Homo sapiens: one gene and its partners. The protein of the gene in region 1 purifies or fractionates together with the protein of each later gene. This does not show direct contact. Each region holds a gene or a part of one and is shown on either strand. Other genes may lie near its edges.

The links.
Region 2: the proteins of FGD2 (region 1) and HP1BP3 purify together in Homo sapiens (affinity purification with mass spectrometry, with the first as the bait; one large-scale study listed by BioGRID). This does not show direct contact.
Region 3: the proteins of FGD2 (region 1) and TCERG1 purify together in Homo sapiens (affinity purification with mass spectrometry; one large-scale study listed by BioGRID and IntAct). This does not show direct contact.

What each region holds. Positions count from the first base shown.
Region 1 is NC_000006.12:37,004,042-37,007,877, reverse strand, and holds the start of FGD2 (FYVE, RhoGEF and PH domain-containing protein 2), read right to left. Parts: upstream 2,224-3,836; 5' UTR 2,061-2,223; coding exon 1,993-2,060; intron 1-1,992. UniProt on the Homo sapiens protein: Activates CDC42, a member of the Ras-like family of Rho- and Rac proteins, by exchanging bound GDP for free GTP. Activates JNK1 via CDC42 but not RAC1.
Region 2 is NC_000001.11:20,739,766-20,742,307, forward strand, and holds the end of HP1BP3 (heterochromatin protein 1-binding protein 3), read right to left. Parts: 3' UTR 501-2,542; downstream 1-500. UniProt on the Homo sapiens protein: Component of heterochromatin that maintains heterochromatin integrity during G1/S progression and regulates the duration of G1 phase to critically influence cell proliferative capacity.
Region 3 is NC_000005.10:146,506,189-146,509,488, reverse strand, and holds part of TCERG1 (transcription elongation regulator 1), read right to left. Parts: intron 2,462-3,300; coding exon 2,282-2,461; intron 1,857-2,281; coding exon of another isoform or gene 1,749-1,856; exon of another isoform or gene 1,711-1,748; intron 1,617-1,710; coding exon 1,533-1,616; intron 345-1,532; coding exon 244-344; intron 1-243. UniProt on the Homo sapiens protein: Transcription factor that binds RNA polymerase II and inhibits the elongation of transcripts from target promoters. Regulates transcription elongation in a TATA box-dependent manner.

The DNA of each region.
Region 1 (3,836 bases):
GCATTGGGACCTAGTGCTGTGTGGCTACTCCCAGGCTCTCCCACCCCTCCCTGGCACCCCAGTCCCTGGTTTCTCAGCCCATGGGTCTGCAGCTCATGGGCGTAGCTGGTTCTCAGGCTTTCTGTTCTACATTTGGTTTCAGGTTCTGCATTTCTGTTCTAGGGCCCCTGGCCAGCTTCTGTTTCCTCTTTGCCCCTCAGTTTCAGATCAGCTGAGGTGCTGGAGACCTCATAAGGAAGCCCAGGCCAAGGCAGTTGGTATGGGTCCCCTCACTCAGTAAGGAGTGGCTCTCACCCTCTTGATGCCTGCTGGGACCTAACTCCCGTCTAAGGGCTGCCCACTCCTGCCAGGGTTATTGCCTGGGCAGAGCACAGCATGCTGAGGGGCTCCACCCAGGTGTGCCTAGTCCACGTCAAGCATGTTGAGTGAGGTGGTACCATCCACCCACACCCAAGGGGGTGGTGGGCCAGGAAGGCGGCACCCAAGAGCTGTCTTTGGTGCTGAACAGGACGAGCTTGGCAAAGATCCCGGGAGAGGCAGGGGAGAATCACCCAGCTCAGGAAGTTGAAGACTTCTAGGTCTACATCTATGCCATCTCCACCCTGAAGCCTACAGGAAACATTGCCTGCCATGAGTGCCCTCAATACAGCATCCGGGCCATTCCTAGGACATCTACTGTCTATGACCTTGCATCATAGTTATTCGATGAGCTCAGCATCCAAATACTGAAACCCTTCTTCATCCTCTACAGTTCCTGTAGGATGCTGTGCTGTGCCACCCATGTCCCTCCTTCAGGAATGAGGCCTCCCCACACCATCCCCACCAGCTACTGGTAGTACTGGGGGCTGCCGGGTAATTTATTGGCTGAGTCCCTCTCTGGGAATCACTCTCTGGAAGAGAGAGCTGCCTCACCCAGAGTCTCTTGTCCAGTCCACATGGAGATACAAATACCCAGCCCTCTTCCTCAGCTGGAACAACCGAGAGGCATCCCAGCTCCAGAGCTCCCTGGGACAGGCTGAGGCCTCTGTGGCAGGTGCACTGCAGTTCAGCATCTCCCCCTGCCCGGCCCTGCTTCCCTCACACCCACAGCTGTTGTTCCCAAAAGCTCTCCCTGATAAATCACCTGAGGCAAACCTCTGTCTGAGTCTATTTCCAGAAAACCCTACCTGGGACAGCCCCTAACACAGTCCTGAGCTTAAGAAATGCCTGCAGAATGGATTGATGCCACACATAACACACAACACACACATACACACACGCGCACACACACAAACACACATGCTCCCAGGGCTACCAATGACTCCACGCATCTGGCCCAGCCTTTTCCCTCCAGACAGACGCCCCAGCATTGCCCCAGATACTTAAAGCACTTGGCATCCTCACCTCTCTGTGTCTCCATTTCCTCATCTATAAGACGGGAACAGAAACAGAATCTACCCCTATTAGGCTGTTCGATGACTAAATTAAATAAGTAAGGACATGAACTTAGAGTAGGGAGTACCCCATCAGGATGCTGCCCGTACATCCTGGTTTGCCTCATACGGTCCCAGCTTTACCTGTAATGCCTCCCCCACAACCACCACATTTTATTTGGCATTTACTTTCAGTTTCAATTGTGTGCTGAATGATAAATTATATGGTTATCCTAATCATAGGGCGTAAATTCTTGGTGAGTATCAGCTACCTTTTCTGAGAGGTGCTGGCAGGCACTGGGTGGGGTCCTGTGCCCACACACAGGCTTTGGTCTGCCCATGCTTGCTCGTAACCACACCTGTCTGGACTCTCCCAACACACACTGGCACTCTCACCCCTGCCTGGCTCCTGGTGTCCCACCGACACTCTCCCATGCTCCAAGGAATCCGTGACCGAGGAACGCGGGGCTGCCCCTGCAGGAGGAGGGTCCGGGGCAGGGCCCAGGGAGAGAGCTGCCAGAAAGGCTGGAGGGTGGCTGCCAGCCCACCATGGTGACCCTCCCACCCCAGCTGCCCATACCTGCTATTCTCAAACACAGTGACCAGGTTGGACACAGATGCCAGCTTCTCCTCACTTGCCCCCTTCATCCTGCCGGTTTCCGGGGTGGATCTCAGCTACCCTCGAAGCAGAGAGAGAGGCCTCCAGCCAGCACACTCAGCCACGCTGGCCTGGGACAGATAGGCTAAATCACCCATGAATCTGTTCTGATCTTTCTTGAGGGCTCAGAAGGTCGGCTCTTGGCTTCAGAGTGAAGAAAGAGGAAGTGGTCCCAGAGCCACAGCCCTGCAGGGGAAAGGCCAGCACTCCCGCAGTGGGAGGAGCCTGCTCGGGCCCCACCTCTCCCTCAGGGGGGCTGACCTTTCACACCTGTAGACCCCCATTCCAGAAGCCACCTAAGAGGTGGCAACAGGGCCCAGAGGTAGCTTCTGGAGCCCAGTCTGGGCTGGTGCAGTGGTTTGCACCTCTAATTCCAGTGCTTTGGGAGGCCGAAGCAGGAGGATTGCTTGAGCCCAGGAGTTCAAGACCAACCTGGGCAACATAGTGAGACACCGTCTCTTAAAAAAAAAAAAAAAAAAAAAGGCCACCCGGAGCCAGACCCTTGGCTGGTTTCTTGGCCTAGTGGTTCCAGCCAACCACACTTTCTCCTTCAGAAGGTCCAGTGGCTTTTACTTGGCCTCTTTCCCAGCACCTTCTTTTCTGCATCTGCCCCTGCTCACAGCTGTAAGGAAATAATGTCTTTTTTATTCTTTAGAGACAGAGTGCGGTGGTGGGATCTCGGCTCACTGCACCCTCTGCCTCCCGGTTCAAGCGATTCTCCTGCCTCAGCCTCCTGAGTAGCCGGGATTACAGGGCCTGCCACCACGCCCTGCTAATTATTTGTATTTTTAGTAGAGATGGGGTTTCACCATGTTGCTCAGGCTGGTCTTGAACTCCTGGCCTCAGGTGATCCTCCTGCCTCGGCCTCCCAAAATTCTGGGATTACAGATGTGAGCCACTGTGCCTGGCCAGGAAACAGCATGTTTTATTTAAAATAATCACAAACCTGGTAAGGGTGGCAGGGAGTACTGTGATGTTCCCACCTCCCCACTGGGGTTCTCTCATTTTAGTTGTTGCTGTCATCACCTCATTGCCCCAAGGGAGGGCAGTTTCCTCCCTGAAACTCAGAGGATAATAATAGCTAACATGCACTCTTTTTCATGCTTATGAGTATTTTCTTATTAATCCTATAACAACCTCATGAGGTAGGTACTATTCCTATCCCCACTTTACATAGGAAGAAACAGAATCAGAGAGGTTAAGTAACTTGCCCAAGGTCACCCAGGAAGAATACAAGAGAAGTTGGATTTCCAAAGCAAAAGTGGGTGTCCTACAGTTCCAGCAAAGGTTCGTTGGGAGCCTGGATGACCATGTTCTTGCTGCTCCATCCCCAGGCCTCCCTGATCCCAGGACACTGGGTTGTCTTTGCCTGAGGCCTCCTTTACCACCTGGTCTCCCGGCCCTTACAGAACAAATGGACGCTGCCTCTGTTCCCCTCCTTCAAGCCCCACAGGCCGTTCAGGGCCCTCCCACTGGGCTCTGGTCCCACCAGGGCTCTCCACTGAACCTGGTCTGTGTCCTGGAGTGCAGGGCCTGAGCCTCGGTGCTCTTGGTACGTGAAGTGCCTGGAACAGCTTCACGCTCCAGTAACTGTGAACCCCTGGGGCCTCACATGCCCAACAGCCGCCCTCACCCCAAGCCTCGTCTGAGTGGTTTCTCCCACCAGATGCCGGGCCCCCTGCCCCAAACCCTAAGTCTCACAAACCTCCATTTTTGTTTTTTACTTTTTATTATGGAGAATTTAGAACATATGCAAAACTAGACAG
Region 2 (2,542 bases), on another chromosome or scaffold:
GCCACACTGACTTGACTATTGGCAAAGTTGGCAATAATTTCATTTCCAAGCCCTCTGCTCTCTTAAACATGTGCTTGGCTGGGCACAGTGGCTCACACCTGTAATTCCAACACTTTGTGAGGCCAAGGCAGGAGATCAACTGAGGTCAGGAATTCGTAATATGCCTGGCCAACCTGGTGAAACCCTGTCTCTACTAAAAATACAAAAATTAGCTGGGCGTGGTGGCACATGCCTGTAGTCCCAGCTACTCGGGAGGCTGAGGCAGGAGGGTTGCTTGAACCCGGGAGGCGGGGGCTGCAGTGAGCCAAGATTACACCACTTCACTCCAGCCTGGGTGAAAGAGTGAGACTCCATCTCAAAAATAAAATAAAAATAGTATCTGTACAGAGCCCGATGTGGAAGAAGCTCAGCTAGTGTTAATCGTTATGACTATTACTACTTACATTAATAAGCCAAACTTACAACTATACTTTATGAGACATACTCTAGGCACCACAGAGTTCTCTTTTGCTAAGCAAAGATTTAATAGTGAACAGTGTTAATTATACATTATATACAATATCAGGAAAAAAAAGAGTTGTAATTTTTGAGGAAAATCGCTTCAGCCTTTTGAGGCCTCCTTTGACATACCAGTGGTTGACAAGACAGAATTAAGAACAGTTAAAACAGTTAAAAAGCTGATAAAATTAAATCATCAAAGGTAGAAAGTTTTCCAACAGGAAAAAAGCCACTGAAGTTAACAGTCTTGTGGAAAAGAACAGAAGAAAGAATAGGGCCAGGTATGGCGACTCACGCCTGTAATCCTGGCACTTTGGAAAGCCCAGGTGGGAAGATCACGTGAGGCCACGAGTTCAAGACCAGCCTGGGCAACACAGTGAGGCCCCATCTCTAGAAAAGATAAATTAGCCAGGCATTTATTAGCTTGCCTGTAGTCCTGGCTACTTGGGAGGCTGAGGTGGGGAGAACTGCTTGAGCACACGAGTTCAAAGCTGCAGTGAGCCAAGATCACACCACTGCGCTGCAGCCTTAGTGACACAGCAAACTCCATCTCAAAAAAATAATAAGTAAAAGAATATAGTTATAAAGACGGTAGAGATTAATTTCTTAAGAAAATAATGCAGCTGATTAGGGGTACTGTTTAACCATCTGTAATGGCTTCTAAACAAATCTTTGTCAAGTGGTTCCTAAGCCAAAACTTCAACAGTTCTGCTTCCTTGGCTTTGGCTCTGCAGAAGTGAGTGACCATCTGTTCCACCATGAAAATGCAAAAGCAAAATCTACATGCTAGAAAGTAATGTCAACCAGAACCTCTGGGGAAACAGTTTAATGGTCTTTTCCAATTAAGAATAGAATTTCTTTTCTTTCATAGCTAAAATTAGAATTTTTGCTTAATCCAAAGAAAGATAAATTAATCAGGTTCCAAAGATAGGAGACCTTAACTATAATCCCAAATTTTTAAAGTTTCTCTTAGTTAAATGCAGTATTTAATGAACATGGCTGGTGAGTTTCGTTCTCATGACGTATCAAGATGGCAAGAGGGTCACAGCCTGAGAGAGAATAATTTCACAGGCTCTTTAAAGTAAGTATTAATTAAGAATTGGTTAGCAAACCTTGACAAGGGCTAACAAAATTTGGAAAAACAGCAATGATGAAAAAACAAATGTCAAAAGGTGTTAGCAGATTGTTTAGTTTTGTTTTCATGTCATTTTCCTGTTAATTATACCCAAAAGACATGATTAAAACATACACCTGTTTCCTAAGATTTATACAGGACCAGGTTTCCTTTAATTAAGTCCATGTGGATGCATAGTCAGAATCCATGTGCAATGAATGCTTCTGTCATAGTGCTAAGGAAAGGTCTCCACATTTCTCAACAATAGTATCTTTCCTTCCTCATTTTGTAGGTTAAGAAGCCAACAATCTCTCTCCCAGCACTTTCTGAGACTCATTTATCAAAGGTAGCTTGTAGGTAGTTTCAGAGTGTATGAAACACTGTAAATGAGGTCACTAAGCCACCAACAGAGTACTGAAGCTATTGATCCATGCTAGAGATTTCTGGGATTACCTCTGGGGTTTGTTGTTCCCCTTTCTGAACATGGAAGTAAAAATTATAAATGTGTTCTGCTCCTTTGGAATGCCTGGAAGGGAAAAATCAAACATTCTTTTATCTCAATGTAAGTAAGGCGTATGTCTTTGACAGTTGTGGATGTTCGTGGAAGAGTGCGATGACCTTCCTGTCTTTTCCCTTTACATCACACTGAAACAAACTGTCCTTATAGTTAACAGAACGTTAGAGTTGGAAGAAACTTTAAATGATCTAAACTTCTCAGCCTGTGCTTAAGTGCCTGGTGTGCAATACAGCCACCAGGTGATTATTCAGTAAGTCTCTTTAAAAGCAGTATCATAAAGCAAAGAAACCAACCAAAATCTCCCAACTTTTGATTCCAGAAGAGTACAGAATTCTGAGCACAGGTACCTAACATCCATACTATTAAGAATCATTACTTGCTAGAGAGCACAGGAGTAATTACTACAATTACTT
Region 3 (3,300 bases), on another chromosome or scaffold:
TGTATTCAAAACTGGATGGGTGGGTAACACAAAATAAGAATTGACATCTGGGCCCTTTCTTTAAAAAAAAAAAAAAGTATGGTAGATATGGGCTGTATTTGACTTTGGACAGAAGTTGGTATCTTCTTATCCCTAAAAATTAATAATGTCAACATGTGTGTGAATGCAAAGAATGCTCTGACCATTAGAGTAAAGACTAGTAAAGAGAATGACTGCCAATATGAAACATTTCATTGCACACACCTATATGTTATAAATTTGGTCTCTTTCAAAAGCGTCCTGAAGTCAGCTTTGGCTGTGATATATTTGTCTCTGATATATTCTTCAAATTCTCTTTGTTTTTTCTGTTAATAAAAAAAAAAAAGTTGAGATTATGGAAATAAAACCCACTAATTCCAAAATAAACATCAATTATTTATTAAACAGTAATGTGTAAGTCACATAATAAAATTTAAAATTCAAAAGAAAAAGGCAACAGGGTACATTTTGTTCATATATAAAATTCATTAAATCACAATTTGCAAGGCTCATTTTTGCGGCAAATAGAAAGAATGAGGAATCATAAATTAGTAGTGGCTAAAACTTGAGAACTTGCTATGTGCTACACTGCTGAGCATTTTATGAGGATCATCTACTTCAATCTTCACAACAACCTCATGAGGTGGACACTTAAAAATAAGGATATTAAGGATTAAGTGTTCACTTCCTGCACACTGTATTTTTAACTTCAAGAACAAAAAGAGTAATTTGTGGATACAGCAACTGTAGGTTAACACTCAATACTTAACTTACACAGTAATGAGCATTTAGCTTTCTGGCAAGCCAAAAGTAATAAGATGAATAAACTCTTTGGACTTAAAAAAGACTTTATTATCAATTCTAAACAGTCAGAAAAGTTAGAAACTGAGACTGGGTCTACCCCTCTTTCCCAGTCATGCATATTTTATGGTCCAAACATCTACAATCCAATAGACTTTGAGGGGGAAGAATATTAGATTTATGAGTTTTTATAAAAGATGCCCAGACCTACAGAAACCAACCAGGAAAGGGGAATGATGTAAAAGAAAACAAATAAAAGGCCTAGGGATAAAATGGACTGTAGTAAACAACACTTTTCTTGACATCATTCACTGTTTCAGACCTTGAAGCATATGAGAACTAGCGATCTCATTACAGGGCTCTGTTTGGCTTAAGAGTCAAGTGCTTTGATAGTTTGGTACCAATTGCCAGCCTAAATATGTCTGTCTAGTGGTACCTGACTAAAATAAAACTGCAGCTTCATTAAATTTCTAAGATCCTAAAATACAAGCTTCACCCCAAGTACTAAAATTTTAAACTTTCTATTGTGCTGTCTTGCTAATTTATCATGCAAGAAACAATACATAAACTTAAAATTCAGATTTACTTCTCATACACTTAAAAGTAATTCACTTAAAACAATCAACTTCATTTTGGTTAAGATAGTAGTGCTGTTAGGCCCCGATTTAAGTATTTATAGACTGACAGTAAATCTCGACACAAAATCCTCTTACCCTGTCACTGGAGGAGAACTTAATACATCGAGGATCTTCCTTAATGATTTTTTTTACTTCTTTCCACGTGGATGTTAAGGTAATCTTTGAAAAGACATGAATAAAAAACATAAATACAACTCACTTTTACTTAGGGAGTCAAACTGCAGCACATAGGTACATAATATTACACACTGACCTGCGATCTCTTGTAATGCCCAAGCGTAACTGGACTAGTTAGGGACAGGGAAGCAGCGTTAATGCAATTTCTTTTTGTTGGCTTGCCACAAGAGTTATTTTCATGGCCATACTTTCAAGGTGGCCTAAGACAATCACCTGCAAACCCTGTATTTACATGGGCAAACATCATAACTTCTGAAGAAACCATCACCAAAAAGAGAGCAAATAAAAAGGAACAAAACCTGGATAACAAAGCGTACAAACTGCCGAACAAGAGGCCATAGTACCAAATTGAAAATGGATCAAAAGAAGAAATTTGCTAAATCTATTATTAGGAGGGATCACTGACCACATGGCTAAGGACATTTTGAATTACTATGGGAGCAGTTATGAATGTGAAAACTGCAAAGAATAGGCATTTCTAAATAAATAAGAATACCATAATTTTTTAAAATCAGAGAATTGTCATAAGATGCATTCCAGTAATGAATCTAAAGACCATGACACTAAAAATCATATCAATGCTTTGCTTTAAGAAATTACTAACAAGATTCATCCAGATTAAAATGAGAAAAATAAGAGATTCTTACTGCAGAAGTTTCATCCAGAAGTTGCCTAAAGTGCTCTCTCTTTTTTTTGGTAAGTGCTTCAATGTGTTCATTAAAAAGCTTCTCTTTCTCCTCTCTTTCCAATAAGGATCCAGATTCCCAGCGGTGATCTTTTCGGAGGGTCCTACGAGTATCAGACCATGACACATCTGAAGAACGTACCTGAAGAGAAAAAATTATATATATATCACCAAAGAGACTTATCTGAATGTCCATTTGCACTTCCATGTCCACTGCAGCATTATTCACAATAGCCAAGATATGGAATCAACCTAAGTGTCTATCAACAGATACATGGATAAAGAAAATGTAATAAATATACACAATGGAGTACCACTCAGCCTTAAAAAAAGAGGAAAATTCTATTCATTTATGGCATGGATAAACCTAGAGGACAACATAAGTGAAATAAGTCAAGCACAGAAACACAAATACTGCATAGTCTCACATTTGTGGAATCCAAAAAAGTTGAACTCATAGAAATAGAGAGTAGATGGTCACCAAAGTCTAGGGGGTAGGAGACAGGACAAGGGAGAGAATGAGGAGTTACTTGTCAAAGATAATGAAGTTTCAGAGACAGCAGAAATAAGTTTTGAGACCTACTGCACACCAGGGTTAACTAAAGCCAATAATGTATTCTACATTCAAAATAACTGAGAGTAAATTCCAAGTGTCTCACCACAAAAAATTATAAGCAAACAAAGTGATGAATATGTTAAACAGCTTTGGTTTAATCATTCCATATTATCTACCTATATCAAAACAGCAACTGTACCCCGTAAGTATATACAATTATGACTTCTCAAAACAATTTTTAAGAAGAAGACAGTATAATAGAAGGCATAACAGGTCTGGCTGGCTCACCAACCAGCAAAAAGATATGCTTCATTGGTGATAATGGCATTAAAAGTTAAGCCACACTACTGCCAATGTGAAGAAACACAGACTAAAATAACAGAAAGGTAAGAAAACAAAAATACAAAAACATTTATTTAACCAAC